Linked DNA regions of Homo sapiens: all the other regions are reported to be linked to region 1. Evidence: microRNA targets listed by miRTarBase, many of them from high-throughput screens and not tested one by one. Region 1 holds a microRNA gene; each other region holds the end of a gene's coding sequence.
Evidence for each region. The annotated mature microRNA hsa-miR-6778-5p reads AGUGGGAGGACAGGAGGCAGGU and lies in region 1 at 4,447-4,468, shown strand. An mRNA with a match to its seed (bases 2 to 7 or 8) in the 3' UTR can be bound and repressed. Matches are read on the target gene's strand: a 7mer-m8 pairs with bases 2 to 8, a 7mer-A1 pairs with bases 2 to 7 and ends in A, and an 8mer does both.

Region 2: the mRNA of MRAS is a reported target of hsa-miR-6778-5p. Seed matches in the 3' UTR shown: 7mer-m8 at 4,091-4,097.
Region 3: miRTarBase lists RAB10 as a target of hsa-miR-6778-5p. Seed matches in the 3' UTR shown: 7mer-A1 at 3,389-3,395.
Region 4: the mRNA of ALDOA is a reported target of hsa-miR-6778-5p. Seed matches in the 3' UTR shown: 7mer-m8 at 861-867.

Annotation. Positions count from the first base shown.
Region 1 is chr17:18,339,217-18,345,327 of GRCh38, reverse strand. It overlaps MIR6778 (microRNA 6778), which reads left to right and starts at 4,442; the gene lies at 4,442-4,514. SHMT1 (serine hydroxymethyltransferase 1) reads left to right here. Exons shown (of 12, transcript NM_004169.5): 6 at 4,515-4,596; 7 at 5,073-5,285.
Region 2 is chr3:138,400,973-138,407,083 of GRCh38, forward strand. MRAS (muscle RAS oncogene homolog) reads left to right here. Exons shown (of 6, transcript NM_001085049.3): 6 at 1,198-4,561. The coding sequence ends at 1,297. Among named protein-coding and RNA genes, the nearest start is that of ESYT3, 31 kb to the right of the region's middle.
Region 3 is chr2:26,134,124-26,140,234 of GRCh38, reverse strand. RAB10 (RAB10, member RAS oncogene family) reads right to left here. Exons shown (of 6, transcript NM_016131.5): 6 at 2,781-5,297. The coding sequence ends at 5,214. It also overlaps the pseudogene EMP2P1. Among named protein-coding and RNA genes, the nearest start is that of GAREM2, 36 kb to the left of the region's middle.
Region 4 is chr16:30,069,398-30,075,508 of GRCh38, forward strand. ALDOA (aldolase, fructose-bisphosphate A) reads left to right here. Exons shown (of 10, transcript NM_001243177.4): 8 at 102-276; 9 at 433-632; 10 at 720-1,017. The coding sequence ends at 815. LOC112694756 (uncharaterized LOC112694756) reads left to right here. Exons shown (of 14, transcript NM_001365304.2): 12 at 102-276; 13 at 433-632; 14 at 720-1,017. Among named protein-coding and RNA genes, the nearest start is that of PPP4C, 3.5 kb to the right of the region's middle. RefSeq lists an enhancer at 5,319-5,498.

The DNA of each region.
Region 1 (6,111 bases):
CAAGATTGCACCAGTGCACTCCAGCCTAGGTGACAGAGCAAGACTCCATCTCCAGAAAAAAAAAGAAAGAATCTGCGTCCCGCACCCAGTTCCCTCCAGCCACCCCCGTCTTTGATGTACATTGTGCAGGCTGCAGTCCTGTGGGTGCAGTGAGGGGACCCACCTCAGGATGGGCATGGAGAGGTGGGGCCTGGGACCCTGGCCAGCTTGGGCAGCAGGAGGTGCAGCTCACCCGCTGTGGGGGTGATTTGAGTCCTGCCCTTGGCGGACAGGAGGAGGAGACAGACCTTATTGGCATTCATCAGCAGCCAGAGGCAGCTCACCTCCACCCCACCGGGCTGCAGAGTTGGAGGTTAGGGGGTGTCCCAGGGCCACTGCCCTGCCCAGCCTTCACCAGACCGCCTGCCTCCACCTTCAGCCCCTGCCCCACTCCACTGCAAGAGCCCCACGCAGGGCCAGGCTAGAGCAACAGCAACATTAACCTTCTATTTTGTGTTTTTGGCCCATCCCCACTGTGACTCGAGAATTCCTCCCTGTCCCTGGTCCTAAGTGACTGCTGGGGTCTCCTTCCTTATCCTCTGTGCACTGTGGACCCCATCTGCAGTTTATTATAAATGCCTATGAATTCTTCTAGGAGTTGTTCTCTTGTCTCATTTTCAAGATTAAAAAAAGAAAAGAAAAACCTTTGAAAAACCCATTAAATTAAAAAGGGAGAAAGCAGCACAGGCTTTTTTTTTTTTTTTTTTTTTTCCGGTAATTGTGGCTACACAAAAAATTTTAGAATTATGTCCATTTTTTTTAAATCTTTTTTTTTTTCCTTTTTGTGGAGAACAAGATCTCACTATGTTGCCCAGGCGGGTCTCAAACTCCTGGACTCAAGCTATCCTACTGCCTCTGTCTCCCTAAGAGCTGGGATTACAGGCGTGAGCCACCATGCCCGGTGAATTACGTCCATTTTTACTGGAGGTCAGCTGTTGATATTTCATTTCATAAAACGGTTTCTTTGCCAAATTCAGGTGACTGAGAAAGAACCACACCCCTGAAGCAAAACACAGCAAACAAAACCACAAATCATCTTTCAGCTTGACTTTCTAGATGAGGTCTTGGTTCCCGAAACCTTGTGGCAAGCTTCTATAGTTGGGTTGGATTATAACTGCCTTTTTTTATTTGGAAAGAGTGACCACCAATCCTGAAACCTTTCACTCCAGATGTGCTGGTAGTTTCTGAGGGGGACACCAAGGTAAGAGGAAGGAAGGTTGGGTCAGGGCCTTCAGAACAGGGAGCCTCTCTGCACATCTCCTCTTCCCTGAGGCTTCTCAGATCCCAGAGCCCAGTTTTTCCTGTGGTGCGCTCTATGCTCTGCTGGTTATGTGTGCTTACCCATGACTTTTTTTTTTTTTTTTTTTTTAAGACAGTATCTGGCTCTGCCTCCCAGGCTGGAGTGCAGTGGCTCTGTCTCGGCTCACTGCAACCTCTGCCTCCTGGGCTCAAGCGATCTTTCCTCTTCAGCCTCCCAAGTAGCTGGGACTAGAGGCGCATGCCACCATGCCTGGCTAATTTTTGTATTTTTTGTGGAGACAAGGTTTTGCCATGTTGCCCAGGCTGGTCTTGAACTCCTGGGCTCAAGTGATCTGTCCAACTCAGCCTCCCAAAGTGCTGGTATTACAGGCATGAGCCACCGCATCCGGCTGACCCCTTTTTTTTTTTTTTTTTTTTTTTGAGACAAAGTTTCCCTCTTGTCGCCCAGGCTGGAGTGCAGTGGCACGATCTCAGCTTACTGCAACCTCTGCCTCCCGGGTTTAAGCGATTCTCCTCCCTCAGCTTCCTGAATCGCTAGGACTGCAGGTGTGTACCACCATGCCTGGCTAATTTTGTGTTTTTAGTAGAGGTGGGGTTTCACCATGTTGGCTAGGCTGGTCTCAAACTCCTGACCTCAGGTGATCTGACCCCCTCGGCCTCCCAAAGTGCTGAGATTACAGATGTGAGCCACCACGCCTGGCTGACCCATATGTTTATAGAAGTTTAATAAAATGAACTTCCTAAGAGATGTGTTGCCAGAAAAGAAAAATTATTTTAAATTTTACATCGAGATCTACAATCTGTTTGGAATTGACTTTTTTTTTTAAACAAATTATATATAATTATGGGATGCACAGTGATGTTATGATTTGTATATACAGTGTGGAACTATTGAATCAAGTTAACTAACATATCCCACTCCTTAAATATTTATTATTTTTCTTCCTGTCTAACTGCAACTTTGTACCCTTTGCTCAGTATCTCTCCATTGTCTGCCACCCTCCAGTGACTGGTAACCACATTCTACCCTGCTTCTGTGAGTTTGATTGTTTTATTTATTTATTTATTTATTCAATTTTAATTTTTTTTTTTTGAGACAGAGTCTCACTTTGTCGCCCAGGCTGGAGTGCAGTGGCACCATCTTGACTCACTGCAACCTCCGCCTCCTGGGTTCAAGTGATTCTCCTGCCTCAGCCTCCCGAATAGCTGGGATTACAGGCATACGCCACCACGCCTGGCTAATTTGTGAATGTTTAGTAGAGACGGGGTTTCACCATGTTGGCCAGGCTGGTCTCAAACTCCTGTCCTCAGGTGGTCCACCTGCCTCGGCCTCCCAAAGTGCTGGAACTGCAGGCATAAGCCACCACGCCCAGCAGTTCGATTGTTTTAGATTTCACATAGAAGTAAGATCACATGGCCAGGTGCGGTGGCTCACACCTATAATCTCAGCACTTTGGGAGGTCGAGGTAGGAGGCTCACTTGAGTCCAGGAGTTCGAGACCAGCCTGGGCAACATGGTGAAACCCCATCTCTACAAAAATATAAGAATTAGCCGGGTGTGGTGGCACTGCCTGTGGTCCCAGCTATTCAGCAGGCTGAGTGGGAGAATCGCTTGAGCCTGGGAGGTAGAGGTTGCAATGAGCCGAGATGGCACCACCGCACTCCAGCCTGGGTGACAGAGTGAGACTCTGTCTCAAAAAAGAAGTGAGATCATGCAGTATTTGTCTGTCTGAGCCTGGCGTATTTCACTTAGCATAAGGTCCTCCAAGTTCATCGGTGTTGTTGCAAATGACAGAATTTCTTTTTTCAGACTGATTATTATTACATTGTTTATATATATATGTGTCACATTTCCTTTGTCCATTCATCTGTTGATGGACATGGCTTTATTCCATAACTTGGCTATTGTGAATAGTGCTGCAGTGAACATGGGAGTGCACATGTCTCTTTGACATACTGATTTCAAGTTCTTAAGATATAGATTCACAAGTGGGATTGCTGAATATGGAATTGATTTGTGTGGGTGAGGCGGGCATCCAGATAACATTTTTGTCCAAATGGATGCCCAGTTGACCTAGTGCCATTGATTGAAAAGGTCATCCTCTCCCCACTGCACTGCAGCGTCACCACTGGCATGGATCCAATGACCTGTGTTGTGTGTGGTTCTGCTTCTGGTTAAGCCAGATGCTCTGCCCTTCCATGAATGCGTGCTGCCTTAATTACTATAATTTGTCAAGCATTTTGTGACACAAAATACACAACGCAATGATGTTTTGTGTAAAGGTTTGGTATGATTTTCCTTTTATGGTTTTTGTTATTTACATTTCATTTTCTATCTTTCTTGCTTTTATATACTTTTTGGCTTTTTTTTTTTTTTTTTTTCAGATGGAGTCTCGCTCTGTTGCCCAGGCTGGAGTGCTGGAGTGCAGTGGCACAATCTCGGCTCACTGCAAGCTCCACCTCCCGGGTTCACGCCATTCTCCTGCCTCAGCCTCCCAAGTAGCTGGGATTACAGGCGCCCGCCACCATATCTGGCTAATTTTTTGCATTTTTAGTAGAGACGGGGTTTCACCGTGTTAGCCAGGATGGTCTCGATCTCCTGACCTCATGATCTGCCCGTCTCAGCCTCCCAAAGTGCTGGGATTACAGGTGTGAGCCACCGCGCCCAGCCCCTACTTCTTGTTTTTCAATGTTGTATCCAGTGACCTTGCTAAATTTGCTTATTCTAACAGTTGGCCCCTAGCATCTTGATTTTCTAGGTATATTGTGTTGTCTGTGTGTAATGTCAGTTTTTAAATTTCTTCTTTCCTAATCGTTATGCCTTTTGTTTCTTTTTCTTGCCTCATTATACTTGGAATAGAAGTAGTATTAGCAGGCATTTTGGTCTTGTTCCTGAAGGTAACCATTTTGGTTTCCATTGTGTGGTCCCGTCACATTTGTTTCATTCTGCAGGTGCTTTTTGGTTCCTTCTCAGCAGGTAGTGCCCCAGCAGCAGGGCTCACTACAACCCTGGGACTCCTCAGGGACTCCTGGGTCTGTGAGCCATACTTGGTTGAGCAGGCTGAACACACCAGTATCCATCCTGTCTCACCCTCAAGTCCTCATCTAGGACATCATTCCTCTTGTCATGGTGGGTGGAGCCAGTTCAAGTGGGAGGACAGGAGGCAGGTGTGGTTGGAGGAAGCAGCCTGAACCTGCCTCCCTGACATTCCACAGGTGAACCCAGATACTGGCTACATCAACTATGACCAGCTGGAGGAGAACGCACGCCTCTTCCACCCGAAGCTGATCATCGCAGGTGATGCGCGGGGCGGAAAGTCACCTTGTTCACCAGTAGCCTGGTGCCTCTTACAGAATGAGGATGGAAAGATGTTCGCACCCTGTTGAGCCCACTGCTAGTTTCTGCCCTGGATAACTGAGTTTCTGGGGTCTACATATATTAGTTTCTTTCAGGATACAGATGTGTGTTTGCTGCTTTTTGTGCTATGTAGATTAAGATGTGAGACTGTTCTCAGAGAAGCATCTAGAAATGTCAGGCCCTGACTGCGCTGGCAATAGTAGTTGGGGCCATCTCAACCACCAAGACGTTGAAGAGTTAGAGTGGTTGCCTTTAGCACAGAGGTGCTTTTTGAGGGCATTCTCCATTTTTGCTCTGAGACTTTAAGGGAAGAAATCTCTGGGCTTTCAGATCTGCACATCTAGAGGCCACTGTGAAGCCAACTCAGCTGGCCGGTGGACATCTCTGATGCAGCTGTGTCACCTTTCCTGTCTCAGGAACCAGCTGCTACTCCCGAAACCTGGAATATGCCCGGCTACGGAAGATTGCAGATGAGAACGGGGCGTATCTCATGGCGGACATGGCTCACATCAGCGGGCTGGTGGCGGCTGGCGTGGTGCCCTCCCCATTTGAACACTGCCATGTGGTGACCACCACCACTCACAAGACCCTGCGAGGCTGCCGAGCTGGCATGATCTTCTACAGGAAAGGTGAGCTCCCGAATGTTGGGTACAGATGGGTACCATGGTTTACATTTCTCCTGTGGGGGTTCAGATTCAGTTGAGGGAGCTGGGAAAAACTCTGACCTGGGATCCTTGGAAAATATTAAGATCCCAGTCCCTTAAAGAGCTGCTTAGGAAGGAGCAGTGACAGGCTTTACAGAAAGGATTCCCGGCCAGGTGAGGTGGCTCGCGCCTGTAATCCCAGCACTTTGGGAGGCCGAAGCGGGCAGATCACGAGGTCAGGAGATCAAGACCATCCTGGCTAACACGGTGAAACCCCGTCTCTACTAAAAACACGAAAAATTAGCCGAGTGTGGTGGTGGGCACCTGTAGTCCCAGCTACTCAGGAGGCGAAGGCAGGAGAATGGCGTGAGCCTGGGAGGTGGAGCTTGCAGTGAGCTGAGATTGTGCCACTGTACTCCAGCCTGGGCGACAGAGCGAGATGCCGTCTCAAAAAAAAAAAAAGAAAGAAAGAAAGGAATCCCCAGAAGGAGACTGTCAGCCACAGCTCCTGCTTCACTTTTGTGCATCCAGGTCCTAGGAACATAGGAGGGGGATCAGCAACCACTATGTGTTAGGATGGCGCCGGTTGCTGAACTCGAGAGGCAGGTGTTTGAATGAAAGGAGGGTGCATGGCTGGCTGGGGGCCACTGGGAGGCCTCACAAGGCTGCATTATTCTGGTGAACTTACAGTGATCCATCATGTTTCTCAAAGAGAAAGACTCATAGTAGTCAAACTAGAAGACATGGATGTATAAACATTAATATCATTTTAGTGAAGGTTTTTCTTTCCATTACCTCATAACCTACCCCT
Region 2 (6,111 bases), not on the chromosome of region 1:
TTCCCTGCCCTGATATCAGAGCACCCTTTGATATTTCCCCTGAACAACCAATATTCTGATTCCAAGGTTCAAATTTCAGAGGCATTGCACATGTATCTCCTTTCCCAACCCCACCAGCTGTCAATCTCCAAGTATTGTCAGCAATCCTAATGAAAGTTTCTTGTATATTCCTTTGCATGGTCAGGGTCAAGACGTTAATCACCTCATGCACTCATGACTAAAACAGCCTCCTGGCTGCATCCGCTGTCACCAAGCTATCCCATTTCCCAAATCTTTAACATGCACAGCAGCCTAACCAGCGGGTCTCAGACATTGTGCGTTGAGTTTGTGGCCTATATGCTGGCACCTCCAAGGGCTGCTGGTGAGCTGTGAGATCAGCCCCGGGGCTCTAACCCCCACTATACACACATGCCCCCACATGCTCAAAAAGCTCATCTTCTCATTATTCCCCAGCGTAATGAGGAAATATTACATTCTTCACTTTATGTTTTTGCTGGCAGTTTTGCACTCTCAAAATGATTTTCTCATCCAGGCGTAGTGGCTCATTCCTGTAATCCCAGCACTCAGAGGCAAAGGTGGAGGTGGAGGCAAGAGGATTGCTTGAGGCTAGGAGTTCAAGACCAGCCTGGGCAACATAGTGAAATGCCATCTTTACAAAAGAAAGAAAGAAACTATTTGCTCTTGGGCATTTTGCCTCCAATTAGGATGTGCTGCCATCAGGTAGCCTATGGTGATGCCTTGGTTGTGAACCTATAGTGCCAAGGTCAGGTTTTAGACATAGGAAAAGTTAACAGAAAACATGAAATGGCTTTTACGCTCAGTTGACCCATCATTTTATTTAAACTATGAAACACAGGAATAGAGGCCAGCACTCTATAAGACAAAACGTGATGTAGCTTATGATTTATGTAAATGTAGCTACAACATAATGTCAGTCATTCCCATCAGTAGGGCGATTTAGGTTATCCCCTCCCCCATCTCCCCCATTGCATTGCCTCAAGAGAAGCTATCCTGCCAGGCCCTCCTCCAGCGGCCAGGACAGCCACTGGGAGAGGGATGGCATCCCCATCCCCCTCACCCACTAACCCCGCCAGAACAGGCCTCCTCTGACTCAGATCTGGGGCTAGGGAGGAGAGGGGCAGAGGAGAAGCAAAGCCCATTCTGACTTTGTCTTTCTGTCCTTCATTGTTTCAAAAGGCAACAGATTCCGGAAAAAAGCCAGAAGAAGAAGAAGAAAACCAAATGGCGGGGAGACCGGGCCACAGGCACCCACAAACTGCAATGTGTGATCTTGTGACAGGCCTGAGGCCCTGGGCACAGTGACGGTGGCCTGGCCAGCCCTCGGGACCCCTCCCCACCTAACTGCACTGAAACCATTTCTAACCACAACCCTTGGCCCAAGGACTTGGTACAGGAAGGGAGAAGGGCAGGTGGGCAGGGAGCAGACAGGGTCTGGCTTTGCCCAGAGGGCACGGGCTTTCCCACCTCTCAAAGAGACAAGGAAGCCACCTGTAAGCAGAAGCAGCATCCAAGTGCCCCTGGCCCCCCCATGTGTTGATTCAACCCGGTTCCTCCCCCTCTCTCGGTGGGTGTGTTGTTTATTGTAACTACATAGTGTTGGTTTGATGTGGAAGTGTTTATCCACATACAAAGTACAAAACAAGCCATGAACAAGCTTCTTTCCCTTACCCCCCATCCACAATGTCTGAGCTTGGATGTCTTTTATAGATTTTTAAATTATTTTAGTGATTATTATTTTATTAAAGGGGTCTGGGCTCACTGCCTGGTGAAGTTTCAAGTGTTCAGCAGACCTCTCTGGTAACATATCTGGAATATTGTTGTTGTTTTTTAACCGAGTTTTCCCATCAGTGCCAAAACTCAACTCAATCTGAAAGTAGAGTGTCTGAGAGGACAGAAGGTAATGGGAACTGTAGCTGGAGGCCTCAGGCCATGGGTCAAACCTGGGAGGGAAAGAGACCCTACACATGGCCTAGAAATGAGAGAAGAGAGAGGTATTTACCCAGAGGATTTTCCTATGGTTGGGGATGCAAATATTAGAAAACAGATTGTATTTTGCTGAGGGGAGTGGCTGTCATGAGCATGTCAGTTCTAAAAGGGGTTTTCATTATCCTGGAAATGTATAAACTAAAGTAAGCTGATTGGCTTTGCAAACATGTTCATTTGTTTTTCAGACAGTATGGGTTAAGTTCTCTGCCCTCCCCAGGGGTCTGAGGAGGCTCTGGGTTTCTCAGATCTGTCTCTTGCTGCGTTTTCACATCAGCTGTGCTGCTTGGTGCCTCTCTGATACGAATACACTGACACGTCAAAGTAACCTAATGTGGACACCATCCAGAAAACTCCAGTTCATGCTGGATCTTAACCAAAAATGATTCAATACTGTTATCACTAAAACAGCACCAAGACCTGAAGCCATCTTCCCTTGGAGTCAACTGACTACCACCTCTATAAGCCTAGTCAATGAGCAGACCCCTTCCAGTATTTGTAAAAGTAGTACTAGGTTGCCTTTTTGGCAATTTTTATTGACCTGTTGAATCTTGACTATAAAATGATCTGAGAAGTAAGGAAGGCTGGGCTGATGTGTGGCTCTCATATACCTTCTGCAAGGGGGCAGTCTCCCCAGCTCCCTGATGATGCTCACCCCCGCCCCCCCACCTCAGGTGCTGCTGGTGTGAGCCAAAGACTGGAGTTTTTCCAGCTGGGGTGGGAGTGGAGAGACAACAGGAACAACGCTGCACCAAAGAAAAGGTCAGAATAAAAGGCAGCACAGCTGGTGACCTTATTTTCTAGATGTTACAAATCAGGTCACTATGCAAACTAGAATATCCTCAGCAGGTGGCCTGGCCACTCTGGAGAAAGAAACCCAAGGAAAGTGAGCACCCAACTGGATGCCAAGACACCCGGGTTCTGAAAATGTGCTGTGTTCCTACCTCGGCAAGATCACCAGCACTGAGGGGCCCAGCTGGAGAATGATTCTGCTACAAAAGGAGACAGTTGAGACTTTTGCTTGTTGGAAATCAAACTTCTTATTTGTCTAAATTGCCCCTTTTTCTGTTCCTAAAAGGAAGGATAAGAGAGAACATTCCAGGTGAGGCACTTCAAAGTTTCCTTAGACCCTATAGTGTTAAGAGGTATTTTAAACACTAAAAGGACAAAGCTCTTCCCAATCCTTATGCTTCCCTAAGTGGTATCTGCAGCAGTTTGTTGTGTGCAGTTTGATGGCAGCTGCAAACTGGAGGTGAGGCGGAGGAAAGGCAGGTAGGAAGGAGTAAGGATGGAGATGCTCAGAATCAAGAGCATGGCGGAGTAGGAGAAGAAGCCCTGCACACAGGGCAGTGTCCACAGCCAGAAAACTCCTGCTGGGCACCAACCACTACGAGCATACCCCATGCCCACCGTGGAGCTGCAACTCCTCGACAGCACTGAGTTTGATAGTCTCACTGGAAGCAGATCAGCTGATGTAGAACAGAGACCTCGGCCATAAAGGTGAGAAGACATAGGGATTTCAACCACACAGTTGGGACAGAAGGGACAGTGCATCTGTTCATCCATCCTGCACTTGGCCCACGTTGAACTCCATGGTGCCTGAGAGAGACTAGTTAAGGGTTGGTCTTCTGTATCCTCTGCTGTTGAGCCTCTGGTAAGCTTTCATCTCCCATGAACTCATTTCCCCATAAATGAAATGGGTAAATAATGCCCCATTTGTAGAAGTGGGCCCTCATGACTGAGGTAGCTTCCAGATAGGCCAGAGTAGAGTGTAGAGTGTGCCCCGTGACATCCCTCCATCTTCTCCTCCATTATCATCTAGCAGGGTCAGACTGGGAAACCTGGTTGGCCACGCCACACCATGACCGAGGAGCCAACTGGGACTTCTGGCTGTTTGACATCCTCATGTTCCCGTTGGTCTTCCGGAGAATAGTGCTACCCTCACATCCCCTGGAGCACAGCCTTCCTGAAATGCCCTCACCCCATGCCTTTGCCATTGTGTGCTCTCAGATTTCTTCCACTGTTTGACACCCTCCTTAGAGGGCTGCTCTTTTTTTTCCAGAGATAATCCTAGCCATCCTCTCCACTCCCACGGCTGGGGACAATGGCCACTTACTACCTGTGCACTTTGCCACTCGGGACACCTGGATGGTTTCTCTTAGGACTTTGCCCACCTCCTTCTCATGGCACTTGCTGTGGAAAATGCCTGGCTGGCCTCGTGGGGCCTGTCTCACTTTTCCAGGAGACATGACCCACTAACGTGGCAACTTTAACCCAAAGGCCCCTCAGACATGTTACAGCAAATCTGGAGCCACAGACAGGTTCCCTCCATTGGCAGCCCATTGTGTTTGAAATTCCATGTCGGGTTTACTTGGAATGAAAGATACTTGAATTATTGTGCGCCTGTGAGCGCCCAGCTTCTGTTTCATAGTCTTAACAGGTGGCCATTGTCGTGAAACGAGTGATGCCTGAAGATCTCAGTGATGTTTGAACCTTCTGTGTAACTTTTTATTAAGTCTTTGTATCTCTCGACTGATTAATAAAGAAGAGAAACACGTATCTGTCTTAGTTCCTTTTACTCCAGTATTCCTGAAGTTTTGCTGAGAACATTGTGAGTTGTTGGTGTTTTGCCCAGAACATCCACGTCTTACAGAGCATGACCTTGGTGCTAACCAGATCTGAAGTAAGGAGGAGCCCACTGGTGGCCGTGGGGTGTCTCCTTCCTGCATGGAGCTGGAGGATGAAGGCAGGCTAGCACAGCATTTAGAGGCACTACCTCTTGATACTGGGCAGATCTGGATTTTAGCCCTACTACCGACCTTTGTATGCCTTTGGGCAAATGACCTGCCTTAGTCTTGAGCTGCCTTGCCTGTGAATGGGACACTAATGTGCACTTCAAAGTAGCTGGAGGACTAAAGCTAATGTAGGAGTGTGGTGAGGAGCCCAGAAACAGTGCTCTTTGTCCAGGACACCTATTGGATTATCTGCCTGACATTCCTTTTCATAGAAACTGCCCTCTTCCCCCATCCTTAGGGTTACAGTCTTTGGCACAATGTGATTTCATTTTTGTTGATTAAATAGGGCGGGTACTTGACCAAGCTGAATCTCTCAGGCTCCGTTTTCCAGGGAGTACAAGCCAAAACCCTCTCTTGGTAGCTCTTTGGGCAACTCTAGCTGAAACATGTAAGCCTGGGTGCTGGAGGATGCTTCTTATGCCCTCTGGGCTGGAGGCAGAGAAGGCTAGACTGCAGACTGGGGAGAGAGGTGATATGGTGGACCACTCAGGCCTGTCTTCCTGCCCATTCATTCTTTCCACAAATATTTATTGGGCACTACCATATGCTAGGCATTGGTCTGGGTGCTAGGTATATGGTAGTGAACAAGGCAGTGGGTCTTCTAAGTCAGTTCTTTCTCCTCTAGTTCTATATTAGTTTCATTGTGGCTGTTGTAACAAATTACCACAAACTTAGTGGCTTTAAAAGAGAAAAGTATTATCTCACAGTTCTGGAGACCAGAAATCAAAACTCAGTATCACTGCCCTGAAATGAAGGTGCCAGGAGGGCCTTCGCTCCTTACCTCTCCCAGCTTCTGGTAGCTGCTGGCATTCCTTGGCATGTGGCTCCATCACTCCAGTCTTCGAGGCCAGCATCTCCATATCTTTTACTTCTCCATCTTCACATTGCCTTCTCTGTGTGTGTCAAATCTCCCTCACTCTCAGTTGATACTTCTTCCATCACTGAGAAGGTTGAAAACAGCTGAACAGAATTTCCACAGACTCCTTTCACCACCTCTGCCCCCTCCCCAGCATCTGCACCCACCTGCTGTGCCTTCTTAGTTGTTAGTGATGAACCCTCCATGCTCCTGGCTGAAGCCAAGCCCCTTCCTCGAGCACTAGCACATACCAGGCATTACCCTGGCCCCCATCCCTCCTCTGTAACTCCAATTTTCCCCTCTACTGGATCTTTCTCATCTTAAAGAAAAAGAAAACCTTCTTTTGACCCACTTCTTTTGCCAGATACCACTTGATTCTCTGCTCTTTTTTGTCTTTTGTAAGTTTTTTTTTTTTTTTTTTTTTTTTTGAGACGGAGTCTTGCTCTATCGCCCAGG
Region 3 (6,111 bases), not on the chromosome of region 1:
TTTGCTGCAGTATAAAATCCACATTCAGACAACCATTTTGTATATAATCTTTTTTTTTTTTAGGTTTTTCTAGCAAATGAATTGTTTCCTTTAAAAGTAAAAAAGAAAAAAAAAAAAAGCCCTGTTTCTTAAAGTGGGAGAAGGGACTTTCTTAGAGCCTACTGTAGTACTGTAATAACCTTCAGTTTATTGTGGGTCTCTCTTGCTCACTTGCTATTGGTAGTGTGCACACCCCTTCCAGTTCCAGCCACTGCTCTCAAGCTGGCTTGCAGCCTTCAAGTACCTGCTGGCTATCTGGAGCTCCCAGACCAATCAGATGCCCCATTGCTTCCCTTTGCTTTCTTCTGCGCGAGATGCTGAGGGGTAATATAAAGCAGAAACAGTAGTAAATGAAGTATACTTCGAGGGTATTACTCTTTGTTAGAAGGTGCCAAGGTTGGGCTAAATGGTCACACAACCACTCCAGACTCTTCCTGCTGTCTCTGCCACCTGTTCATTACCCCAGGCCCTCCTGAGAACTGTGATAAGGTGAAGTGAACACAGGAGGGACAGTGGTGTTGGCCTGGTTTCAAAATCCGACTCCAGCACCAACTGGCTGTGCAACCTTAAGCAAATGACTTAATCTGAGGCCGTTTCTTCTTGGGTACTAATTCACAAGGACGTTGAAGACCTAACCCAAAGTACCTAGAGCAGTGCCAAAAAAGCACCTAGCAGGCTCACCAGAAATACACCGCGCCCCCATTCACACACTACCTTTGCCTTCAACCCTGCATTTCCCTCTGCCATTTTAGCCCGGTCTTATTGAAACCCTGATTAACACGACTTCCCATGTGACCTCTAGAACCCTTGTTTCTCCTATTCAAATCCATCTAAACTTGCTTTCCACAAACACACTGCTCTCGCCACTCTCGAGTTTACCATGACTCCCCAGGGCCTGTCATTGTCTAGTCTCTGTGGTCTCTTCTTACAATGACCTCCCCATCTGCCCTAGCCAGTGAATCGACATTTCGAAGAACCAATTAATGTCCCTCCTCCCCCCAAAAGCAATCCCATTCTCACCAACTGAACTTGATATATTAATACAGCAATTAAAATCCAGATTACAATTATTTGGCTCTTGTATATGCTTAACTTGATGAATTACTTTTGTTTTCTAAACTAGACCATCGATTTAAGGGGGGAGACCATATCCTATTTCCCTACACCAATCTTGTTTGTTTTTTTTTTTTTTTTTTTTTTTTTTGAGACAGAGTCTTGTTCTGTCACCCAGGCTGGAGTGCAGTGGCATGATTTCGGCTCACTGCAACCTCTGCCTCCCGGATTCAAGCGATTCTCCTGCCTCAGCCTCCCAAGTAGTTGGGATTACAGGCATGTGTCACCATGCCCGGCTAATTTTTGTATTTTTAGTAGAGACAGGGTTTCACCATGTTGGCCAGGCTGGTCTCGAAGTCCTGACCTCAGGTGATCCACCCGCCTTGGCCTTCCAAAGTGTTGGGATTATAGGCGTGAGCCACTGCACCCAGCAAAGGCAGAATTGTAGGTCCCAACAAAACAAGTATGTTGGGGGGAAGGAATAGAACATTAAAAACACTCCATGTGATTCTTAAAATCACTGCATCTGAGAAAAACTCTACATATACTTTCAGCAGAGACAATCTTGTCAACAAATATTTATCTTTATTATTGACTAATAAAGCCTGAATATAGGATCAAACATTTCTTTTCCCTACACATAAAGACAAGGCTGTTGCTATGTATAACAAAAGCAGGAAATACTGTTTTTTGTTTTTTTTTTTTTGAGAAGGAGTCTTGCTCTATAGCCCAGGCTGGAGTGCTGTGGTGCGATCTCGGCTCACTGCAACCTCTGCCTCCTGGGTTCAAGTGATTCTCCTGCCTCAGCCTCCCAAGTAGCTGGGATTACAGGTATGCGCCACCACGCCCGGCTTTTAGTATTTTTAGTAGAGACGGGGTTTCATCATGTTGGCCAGGCTGGTCTTGAACTCCTGACCTCAGGTGATCCACCCGCCTCGGCCTCCCAAAGTGCTGGGATTACAGGCGTGAGCCACAGCGCCCAGCCAATACTTTTTTTTTTTTTTTTTTTTTTTTGAGACGGAGTCTTGCTCTGTCGCCCAGGCTGGAGTGCAGTGGCGCTATCTCGGCTCACTGCAGCCTCCTCCTCCTCCTCCCGGGTTCACGCCATTCTCCTGCCTCAGCCTCCCGAGTAGCTGGGACTACAGGCGCCCGCCACCACGCCCGGCTAATTTTTTTGTATTTTTAATAGAGACGGGGTTTTACCACGTTAGCCAGGATGGTCTCCATCTCCTGACTTCGTGATCCGTCCGCCTTGACCTCCCAAAGTGCTGGGATTACAGGCATGAGCCACCGCACCTGGCCAATACTTTGTTTCTTAGTAAGAGGCCAGCTGCTGCTAAAACAAGGATTTACCCTCCAGTATGAGGAGCCCAGCTTGGTCCCCCTGAGGAATCAGGTGACCTCAGCTGTAGTGGCCTTAGGCACATCCAACTAGTGTAAGCCAGGTGTGATTAGGATCGTGGCATCTCCTATTTTGGCACAAGGATGATTCCGCTTTAGGATCCCAGAGATAATTCTATTTTTTAATGTAGTTTCTCAGCAAAGACAGTTCTTGAAATTGCCTTTCCAGTTTTCCATAGGTTGACAGTGATTTCCCATTTTTGTCAACTCTTTGAGTTTGCGATTCCACATTTTTTTCAGAAGTAATCTTCCAATTCCATAAATAAATGAAAACCAAACCACACAGCTGGAAATCAAGTTTTGTTTTTATATGAACAGAAGTAGACCATCTAGAAATATTTCAGTTTATTTAAATTGTTAAGTAGAATATGAAACCGAATTTGTAGCTAGTACCAGAGAATGGACTTAACTGTTTGGTGTTTAATGAGAACAGCTTCTACACAGGATCCCAAGAGACTTACAGAAAAGGGGCAAAGCCCTAATATTAAGCAAATAAAACTCATGTTTCAAACAGATTATACAAAAATTGATTTATACTTCATTTCCCTTTTTTGATATTTAGAAAGTGCAGATTTAACAAAAGGTAGCCATATCCTTTCTATGTACAATGCCGATTATAATTATGCAAAACTGTCAGTCTGTTATCCAAAAATCCCAGTGTTTAGCTCTCCAACCTTAAGTCATGGAATTGAATAAGAATTAAAGAGGGTTAAAATAAAAAAGCTAATGCCACATTCCAGATAAAGGGAAGCAACAAATACATTAATCTAACAACAGTAGGTTTAACCTAAACTTTTCAAAAAGCTTAACATCATTTCATTATATTTTTAGTGGAAAATTAGGGATTATTTGGCAATGCTGCTTTTTACTAGTAGTAAACAATGATAAAGTCAAGTGTGGGAATAACCTAAGAATAACAACCAGTGAGGCATATAAAATTGTTTTTAGGGCACTATCTGAAAAATTTGTGGATTTTCATAGCAGATACGTCCCTATGTTGTTTGCTTATGTGAGCCAAGAGGTCATTAAAATGCTATTCACGACACAGAAAGACTTCTCAATGGAAGCTGCTGTCCTAAACTCAGCCTCTGCTAGAAATGAATCATGCTATTCACAATTCTTTCAACAAAGGTATCATCTTAGGATGCTAGCAGCATAGCAAACTTCACTTACCCTATCCTAATGATAAGCAATGAAGCAAAACTAGAAAAAATGCAGTGAAAAAAGGACAGGGTTAGAGATAGCTAAAGATCTTATCTTTACATGAAAAGCCTTTCGTTGTCCTTTTTCCAAACCCATGGTAATACAAGTTTTCCAAAAGGATGTAAAGACAGGACTTAAAATTAATAATATTCTAAAGTATTTCTGAATCTTAAGGTAAAGAAACTTAACACTGAAAAAGTGTTCTTCAGAGGCCAAATCTCAATACATTTGGCAAACATGTTAATAAAATTCACTCCTCCTTCCTGCTTTTCCTTTTTTAAAAAAACAACCTGTACTAGGCTACCAAGCTGCTAGAGGAGTTGCCAAAATGCAGACTACTCAAATTTAGGTTAAGAGATTTATTCTAGGAAAGTGAATAGGCTATACACCTAATTAGAAAGACAAACCACAACACCCTCCAAACACTAGTGCATGCAGTTAACTCTTCCATTTCATAAACTCAATGGATAGACAGGAAGGGAACAAAGAGAGGAGGAAAAGCAGAACATAGAAGTAAAACAGCAAATGAAGGCATCTGGGACACATTTTAGGGAAGAGAGCAAATGAGGGGGGAAGACACCAATTAACTGACATTGGATAGTAGGCAGTTAGAACTTATCTTTCCGTTTACCTAGCAAGTTACATCAGTGCTTTATATTAAACTTGACAAACCTACTAGTTTGTCCCTTTCACTCTTAAATATACCATGAGGTGGTTGGGGAGGGAGAAGCAAATAAAGCAGCATGCAGGGAGACGCAAGGAAGAAGTGGCCAAGGAGAAGAAATGGTGGCAGGAATAGTTTTAAATATCAAGGCCACTTAAAACAAGACTCAGCAAACCAAAGCTATCACTTCTGCATTACCCTTTGTCCTCAATTAACTACTTTGAAAATTACAGCCAAGCAAACCACAAACATTTTAATGGTTTATGTTTGGATGATATGTCTCCTGCACATGCTTCCACCAGAACAAAAAAGGAAAACCAAAGAAGTTCCTTTCCACATAAGGCACAGGACAAAATTAATCCCATTTACATATTCAAGGCGAAAATGAGTGTTTTCCTGGCTTTTGTTTGTTTCTTTTGCTATCACATGTCTATAGATTATAGGGACTCAAGCACATTATCCATGACAGAAAATTCCACTGTTGTACAAAATAAAATTGTTAATTCTAACTTTATTCTTATACAATTTGCAGAATAGATTTGAAATGATTGCTATAGGTTTTAATGTTGATAAGAACTGGACTATAATACAACTGAAATGCAGTTGAGCTGAGCAAGTACATTTAAAAATGAACTCACAGACATGATTTTTCTATACATTTTTTTGTTTGAAGAAAATTATGATAAAGTCAGCAAGCAGTCACAGATGAAAGAACAAATAAAATAGGTGGCTTGGATAGTTAAGATGAGAAACAAAAATATCTGTTTAGAGTTAAAAATGGACAGAGTGGTTTATTTTGCAGCAAGAAGAGAAAACGGGGTAGTGGATGGCAACTGATGGAACAGGAGAATGCTCAGCAGCATTTGCTCTTCCAGCCTGTCACGCCTCCTCCACTGCTGATATCTACATTTTCACTGTTGGGCTCTTTTACAGGGGTCTGCAACAAACACACAAGGAAAATAACTCATGAAAAAACACTGCCATGGATAAAATCACGATTCAACAGGAATATTCTTATGTCAATTTATACAACAAAATACAACTACAATCACAGGAGATAGGTTTCCCCTCCGTGCAAAGTAAAGATTTGGAAGCTTTGTTTTGATTTTCTTTTTGCCTGCTTCCTCCAAGCTGTGAAATATTGTAGACATTTCCTGGCATGCCTTTATAAAGCTTCTGAAATCTTCTCAGCTCTAACTCTTAAATAGATTTTGTTATCTTCTAGCCCTGACCTCTGAATATGTTTAGTACTTAAAAGGCATTGTGGAGCAAGTTGTATGAAACCAGTGTTAGGTATATGTAACGTCACAGAAATAAAACTGCCCTTTTCTGTTATCTGCCTTTTTAGACCAATTTTATTACTGTATCATAGTTTTAAAAAGGCAACCTCAACTGATTAAGTGAAAAGGAGTGGAGCAAAATGTAGTTATCTAATTCATGTTAAAAATGGATATAGATGGCTGAGCACAGTGCCTCACGCCTGTAATCCCAGCACTTTCAGAGGCCAAGGTGAGAGGATCACTTGAGGCCAGGAGCTAAAACCACGTTGGGCAACACAGCAAGACCCCCATCTGTATAAAAAATTTAAAATATTAGCTGGACACAGTGGCTCAAGCCTGTAGTCCCAGCTACTCAGGAGGCTGAGGCAAGAGGATCACTTGAGCCCAGGAGTTCAAGGCTGCAGTGGGCTATGATCACTCCACTGCACTCCAGCCTGTGCAACAGACCAAGAGAGTAAGACTCCTCCCAAC
Region 4 (6,111 bases), not on the chromosome of region 1:
CTACCTGCCTGACCAGTGCAAGGTGGCTGGCCGGGGACCCTGGGGCTAACCCCTATCCTCTCCTCCACCCCACTACCCACCGTGCGCCTGCTCTGCTCCAGGTGCTGGCTGCTGTCTACAAGGCTCTGAGTGACCACCACATCTACCTGGAAGGCACCTTGCTGAAGCCCAACATGGTCACCCCAGGCCATGCTTGCACTCAGAAGTTTTCTCATGAGGAGATTGCCATGGCGACCGTCACAGCGCTGCGCCGCACAGTGCCCCCCGCTGTCACTGGTGAGGCCCACACTCATCTTGATCTCTATGCAGTAGATAAGCTCCACCCACAACCCTATGCCCATTTGGACGGATTTCCATGGCAACTTCCACCAGCTCCTGCCAGCTTCCTGGGTCTCTGACCACAGCCCCTCTCGCCTCACCCCTGCTCTACAGGGATCACCTTCCTGTCTGGAGGCCAGAGTGAGGAGGAGGCGTCCATCAACCTCAATGCCATTAACAAGTGCCCCCTGCTGAAGCCCTGGGCCCTGACCTTCTCCTACGGCCGAGCCCTGCAGGCCTCTGCCCTGAAGGCCTGGGGCGGGAAGAAGGAGAACCTGAAGGCTGCGCAGGAGGAGTATGTCAAGCGAGCCCTGGTAAGGATAGGCAGGAGGTGGGCAGGGTGCCTGGGTGGATGGGACTCGGAGAAGAGCCCTTCTCACTCCACCCCTCTCCCTGCTTAGGCCAACAGCCTTGCCTGTCAAGGAAAGTACACTCCGAGCGGTCAGGCTGGGGCTGCTGCCAGCGAGTCCCTCTTCGTCTCTAACCACGCCTATTAAGCGGAGGTGTTCCCAGGCTGCCCCCAACACTCCAGGCCCTGCCCCCTCCCACTCTTGAAGAGGAGGCCGCCTCCTCGGGGCTCCAGGCTGGCTTGCCCGCGCTCTTTCTTCCCTCGTGACAGTGGTGTGTGGTGTCGTCTGTGAATGCTAAGTCCATCACCCTTTCCGGCACACTGCCAAATAAACAGCTATTTAAGGGGGAGTCGGCCGTCCGTGTCTTGTGGTGTCTAATGCAGGGGAGGGCCTGGGGAGGTAGCAGAGCCCAGAAGAAGAAAGAGCCCCTGTTCTCTGTTTTTTCTGGGCAGAAAAGGAGTGAAAGGTGGAAGGACCTTCCTGCTCTGTTTTATACTTGGCCAGGGCTTCAAGAAAGGCTGAGAGCTTGTGACATTTTCTTCCAGCCACTGCAGGCTCTGCCCCTTCACCTAACAGCATAAGATAGGGCTAACAGTTGGGGAGTATGGTTGTAACTGCTCATGTCTTAGGAGGCTTCAGCCTCAGCACTTTTAGGTCCAGAACTCAAGGGGGGCAGAAGACCCCTGTGACAAAAACCCACTAACTAGCTCATGAGTGACATGAGCCAGGCAACATAATGGGTGTTTTATATGAGTAGATGCTGTTATTTTTAATTTATACCTAAGGCTCTTTTGCCCAAGATTGAACTGTTTCTTGGTGGAAAGGATTATCAATGCATATCTCTTTTTTTTTTTTTTTTGAGACAATCTCACTCTGTCACCCAGACTGGAGTACAGTGGCACGATCTTGGCTCACTGCAACCTCTGCCTCCTGGGCTCAAGCGATTGTCCTGCCTCAGCCTCCCAAGTAGCTGGGATTACAGGCTCACGCCACTATCGCCTGGCTAATCTTTGTGTTTTTTAGTAGAGGTGGAGTTTCATCACATTGGCCAGGCTAGTCTCCAACTCCTGACCTCACATGGTTCCTCCACCTCAGCCTCCCATAGTGCTGAGATGATAGGCGTGAGCCACTGCGCCCAGCCAATGCTTATCTCCTTAATCTACACTATTGAGTTTTCTGTTTTCCCATCTTTTTTTTTTTTTCTTTTTGAGACAGTTTCGCTCTTGTTGCCCAGGATGGAGTGCAATGGCACGGTCTCTGCTCACTGCAACCTCCCCCTCCCGGGTTCAAGTGATTCTCCTGCCTCAGCCTCCACAGTAGCTGGGATTACAGGCGCAAGCCACCACACCCGGCTAATTTTTTATTTTTAGTAGAGACGAGGTTTCGCCATGTTGGCCAGGCTGGTCTCGAACTCCTGACCTCAGGTAATCCGCCTGCCTCAGCCTCCCAAAGTGCTGGGATGATAGGCGTGACTGCGCCTGGCCTGTTTTCCCATTTTAACAGGAGATGGAATTAGAGAGGGCTTCTTAGTCTCCTTTGGGCTGTGGAATCCCATAAAAACCTTGAATTGTTTCCAATACCCCCTTGGTAATGCAGATACAGAAGTTAAGCTGTAGAGCTCAGGCTCCAGGTGAAGAACTGTGTCTCTGTAGCTGCTGCTTTCCATGAAGCTAGAATGAGCGTGCCATGCCATTACTTTGAGCCTTTCCCCAATGACCCAGGCTGGGGTGTACAGTAACTACATCAGCTCTCTGGACCTAGAGAATCTCTGCAGTGATTCAGGTAGAACGGAGTTACCTAGAACCTTCTAGGAGTATAAAAACTTGGTCCTAGGCCGGGTGCGGTGGCTGACGCCTATAATCCCATCATTTTGGGAGACCAAGGTGGGCGGATCATGAGGTCAGGAGTTTGAGACCAGCCTGGACAACATAGTGAAACCTTGTGTCTACTAAAAATACAAAAATTAGCCGGGCATAGTGGCGCACACCTGTAGTTTCAACTACTTGGGAGGCGGAGGCAGGAGAATTGCTTGAACCCAGGAGGCAGAGGTAATGGTGAGCCGAGATTGTGCCACTGCACTCCAGCCTAGGCAACAGAGCCAGACTCCGTCCCAAAAAATAAAAATAAAACTTGGTCCTTCCCTTTTCTGCTTATTTTGCTTTTATTGCTTACATCTAAAACAAAACCAATCACTATTATCCCTCTAAACTTTGGATTAATTTGTCTGCCTAGCTCATTCAACTCTGGGAAACAAACACTGAAGTAAAGCAAATAAAAATTGAAGGTCGGTAGAAGATGGCAAAGGGGGCATTCCAAAAGGGAACATGTGCAGAGTCTCAGAGACTGGAGAGATTGTTTAAAGATCAATAGTTTCAGCCGGGCACGGTGGCTCACAACTGTAATCCTAGCACTTTGGGAGGCTAAGTCCGGCGGATCACGAGGTCAGGAGTTCAAGACCAGCCTAGCCAATGTGGTGAAACCCCCGTCTCCACTAATAATACAAAAATTAGCTGGGCATGGTGGCGCGCGCCTGTAGTCCCAGCTACTCGGGAGACTGAGGCAAGAAGAGTCGCTTGAATCTAGGAGGTGGAGGTTGCGCTGAGCCAAGATTGTGCCACCACACTCCATCCTGGGCAACAGAGCGAGACTCCGTCTCAAAAAAAAAAAAATAAAAAAGACTAGAGAAGCAGAGAACGTCATATACCAGTTTGGGGGATTTGGACTTTTATTTATTTATTTATTTTGAGACGAAGTCTCGCTCTGTAGCCCAGGCCGGAGGGCAGTGGCACGATCTGGGCTCACTGCAACCTCTGCCTCCCGGGTTCAAACCGATTATCCTGCCTCAGCCTCTCCAGAGTAGCTGGGATTACAGGTGCACGCTACTGCACCCGGCTAATTTTTTGTATTTTTAGTAGAGACGGGGTTTCACCATGTTGGCCAGGCTGGTCTTGAACCCCCAATCTCAGGTAATCCGCCTGCCTTGGCCTCCCAAAGTGCTAAGATTACAGGCGTGAGCCACCATGCCTGGCCTGGACCTCTTAATTTTATGATAATCTGAGTTCCCGAAAGAGTAATTGATAGAAAAAAAAACTACACCTGAGGACACAACTTTCTGAGTTCAAATTTCTTTTTTTTTGAGACAGCATTTCACTCTGTTGTCCAAGCTGGAGTGCGGTGTCACAATTTCGGCTCACTGCAACCCCCGCCTCCTGGGTTCAAGCGATTCTCCTGCCTCAGCCTCCCAGGTAGCTGGGACTACAAGCGCATCACCAAACCTAATTATTATTATTTTTTATTTTTTAGGATAGACAGGGTTTCACCATGTTGGTCAGGCTGATCTTGAATTCCTGACCTCAGGTGATCCACCTGCCTCGGCTGCCCAAAGTGCTGGGATTACAGGTGTGAGCCACCACACACAGCCAGGTTCAAATTTCTTTCTTTTTTTTTTTTGAGACAGAGTCTCGCTCTGTTGCCCAGGCTGGAGTCCAGTGACGCAATCTTGGCTCGCTGCACGCTCTGCCTCCTGGGTTCACGCCATTCTCCTGCCTCAGCCTCCCAAGTAGCTGGGACTACAGGCGCCCGCCACCACGCCCAGCTATTTTTTTGTATTTTTAGTAGAGACGGGGTTTCACTATGTTAGCCAGGATGGTCTCGATCTCCTGATCTCGTGATCCGCCCGCCTCAGCCTCCCAAAGTGCTGGGATTACAGGCGTCAGCCACCGCGCCCAGCCCAAGTTTCTTATTCTTTTTGTTTATAGACTGGGTCTCACTCTGTTGCCCAGCCTGGTCTTGAACTCCTGGGCTTAAGTGATTCGCCTCGGCCTCCCAAAGTGCTGGGATTACATGCTTGAGCCACCACACCTAGCCCCGGATTCAAATTTCAGTGTAACATCCCCAATCCACTGTTATACAAGCAATGAACAAGTTATTTAACCCCTCTGAGCCAGTTTCCTCCTCTTAAAAAAGGCACAAAACTTAATAGAAAGCAACTAAGAAGCCAGGCACGGTGGCTCAAGCTGGTAATCCCAGCACTTTCCGAGGCCGAGGAGAGTGGATCACCTGAGGTCAGGAGTTCGAGACCAGCCTGACCAAAATGGTGAAACCCCGTCTCTATTAAAAATGCAAAAATTAGCTGGGCGTGGTGACGGGTGCTTGTAATCCCAGCTACTCAGGTGGCTGAGGCAGGAGAATTGCTTGAACCCAGGAGGCGGAGGTTGCGGTTTGCCAAAATCGCTCCACTGCACTCCCGCCTGGGCGACAAGAGCAAGGAAGGCTCTGTCTTAAAAAAATAAATAAATGAAAATACAAAAATTAGCCAGGCGTCGTGGCACATGCCTGTAATCCCAGCTACTTGGGAGGCTGAGGCAGGAGAATCGCTTGAACCTGGGAGGCGGAGGTTGCAGTGAGCCGAGATTGTGCCACTGCACTCCAGTCGGGGTGAAAAAGCAAGACTCCGTCTCAAAAAAAAAAAAAAAAAAAAAAAAAGAGGCCGGGCACGGTGGTACACGCCTGTGGTACAGCACTTTGGGAGGCTGAGGCAGGTGGATCATGAGGTCAGGAGATCGAGACCATCCTGGCTAACACGGTGAAACCCCGTCTCCACTAAAAAATACAAAAAAATTAGCCGGGCCTGGTGGCGGGCGCCTGTAGTCCCAGCTATTCAGGAGGCAGAGGCAAGAGAATGGCGTGAACCCGGGAGGCGGAGCTTGCAGTGAGCCGAGATGGCGCCACTGGACTGCAGCCTGGGCGACAGAGCGAGAGAGTGAGACTCTGTCTCAAAAAGAAAAACGGAAGCAACTAAGAAATGTCAAGAGTGCCATTTTGGAATCAGAGAAGTCATGCTGACTGAGGCACAGGCTTGGCGTGGGAAAAGTGGACTCCAATCTGTTAACTTCTGAAGTTGTCCACGGCAAATATTTCTCTGACGGCACAGGAAGAGATCTGAACTTGGCTTCCCTCATCCATTGAACAAGTATTAACAAGTATCTATATATGCCTACCGTGCCAGGCCTTATTCTAACCACTGGGGCTGCAATATTTAAAAAGACAAAGTTGGATCCTCCAAGGACTGTGGTGGGGAAGGCTGACAAAACAAGTAACAAAAATGTGTAACATTAAAAAAAAAGTGTAATGTTAAAAAAAAAAAGTGTAATAAAGTTACAAAGCCTAGCCCCAGCTCGGCTTGTTTCCCTAGCTGAAATGGGGGATGGCCGGGCGCGGTGGCTCACGCCTGTAATCCCAGCACTTTGGGAGGCCCGAGGCGGGAAGATAGCTTGTGCCCAGGAGTTCGAGGTCACAGTGACCTATGATAGCCCCACCGACTCCAGCCTGAGCGATAGAGCGAGACCCTGTCTCTAATTTAGAAAAAAGAAAGTTGTGGCCGGGCGCGGTGGCTCACGCCTGTAATCCCAGCACTTTGGGAGGCCGAAGGGTGGTGGTGGGT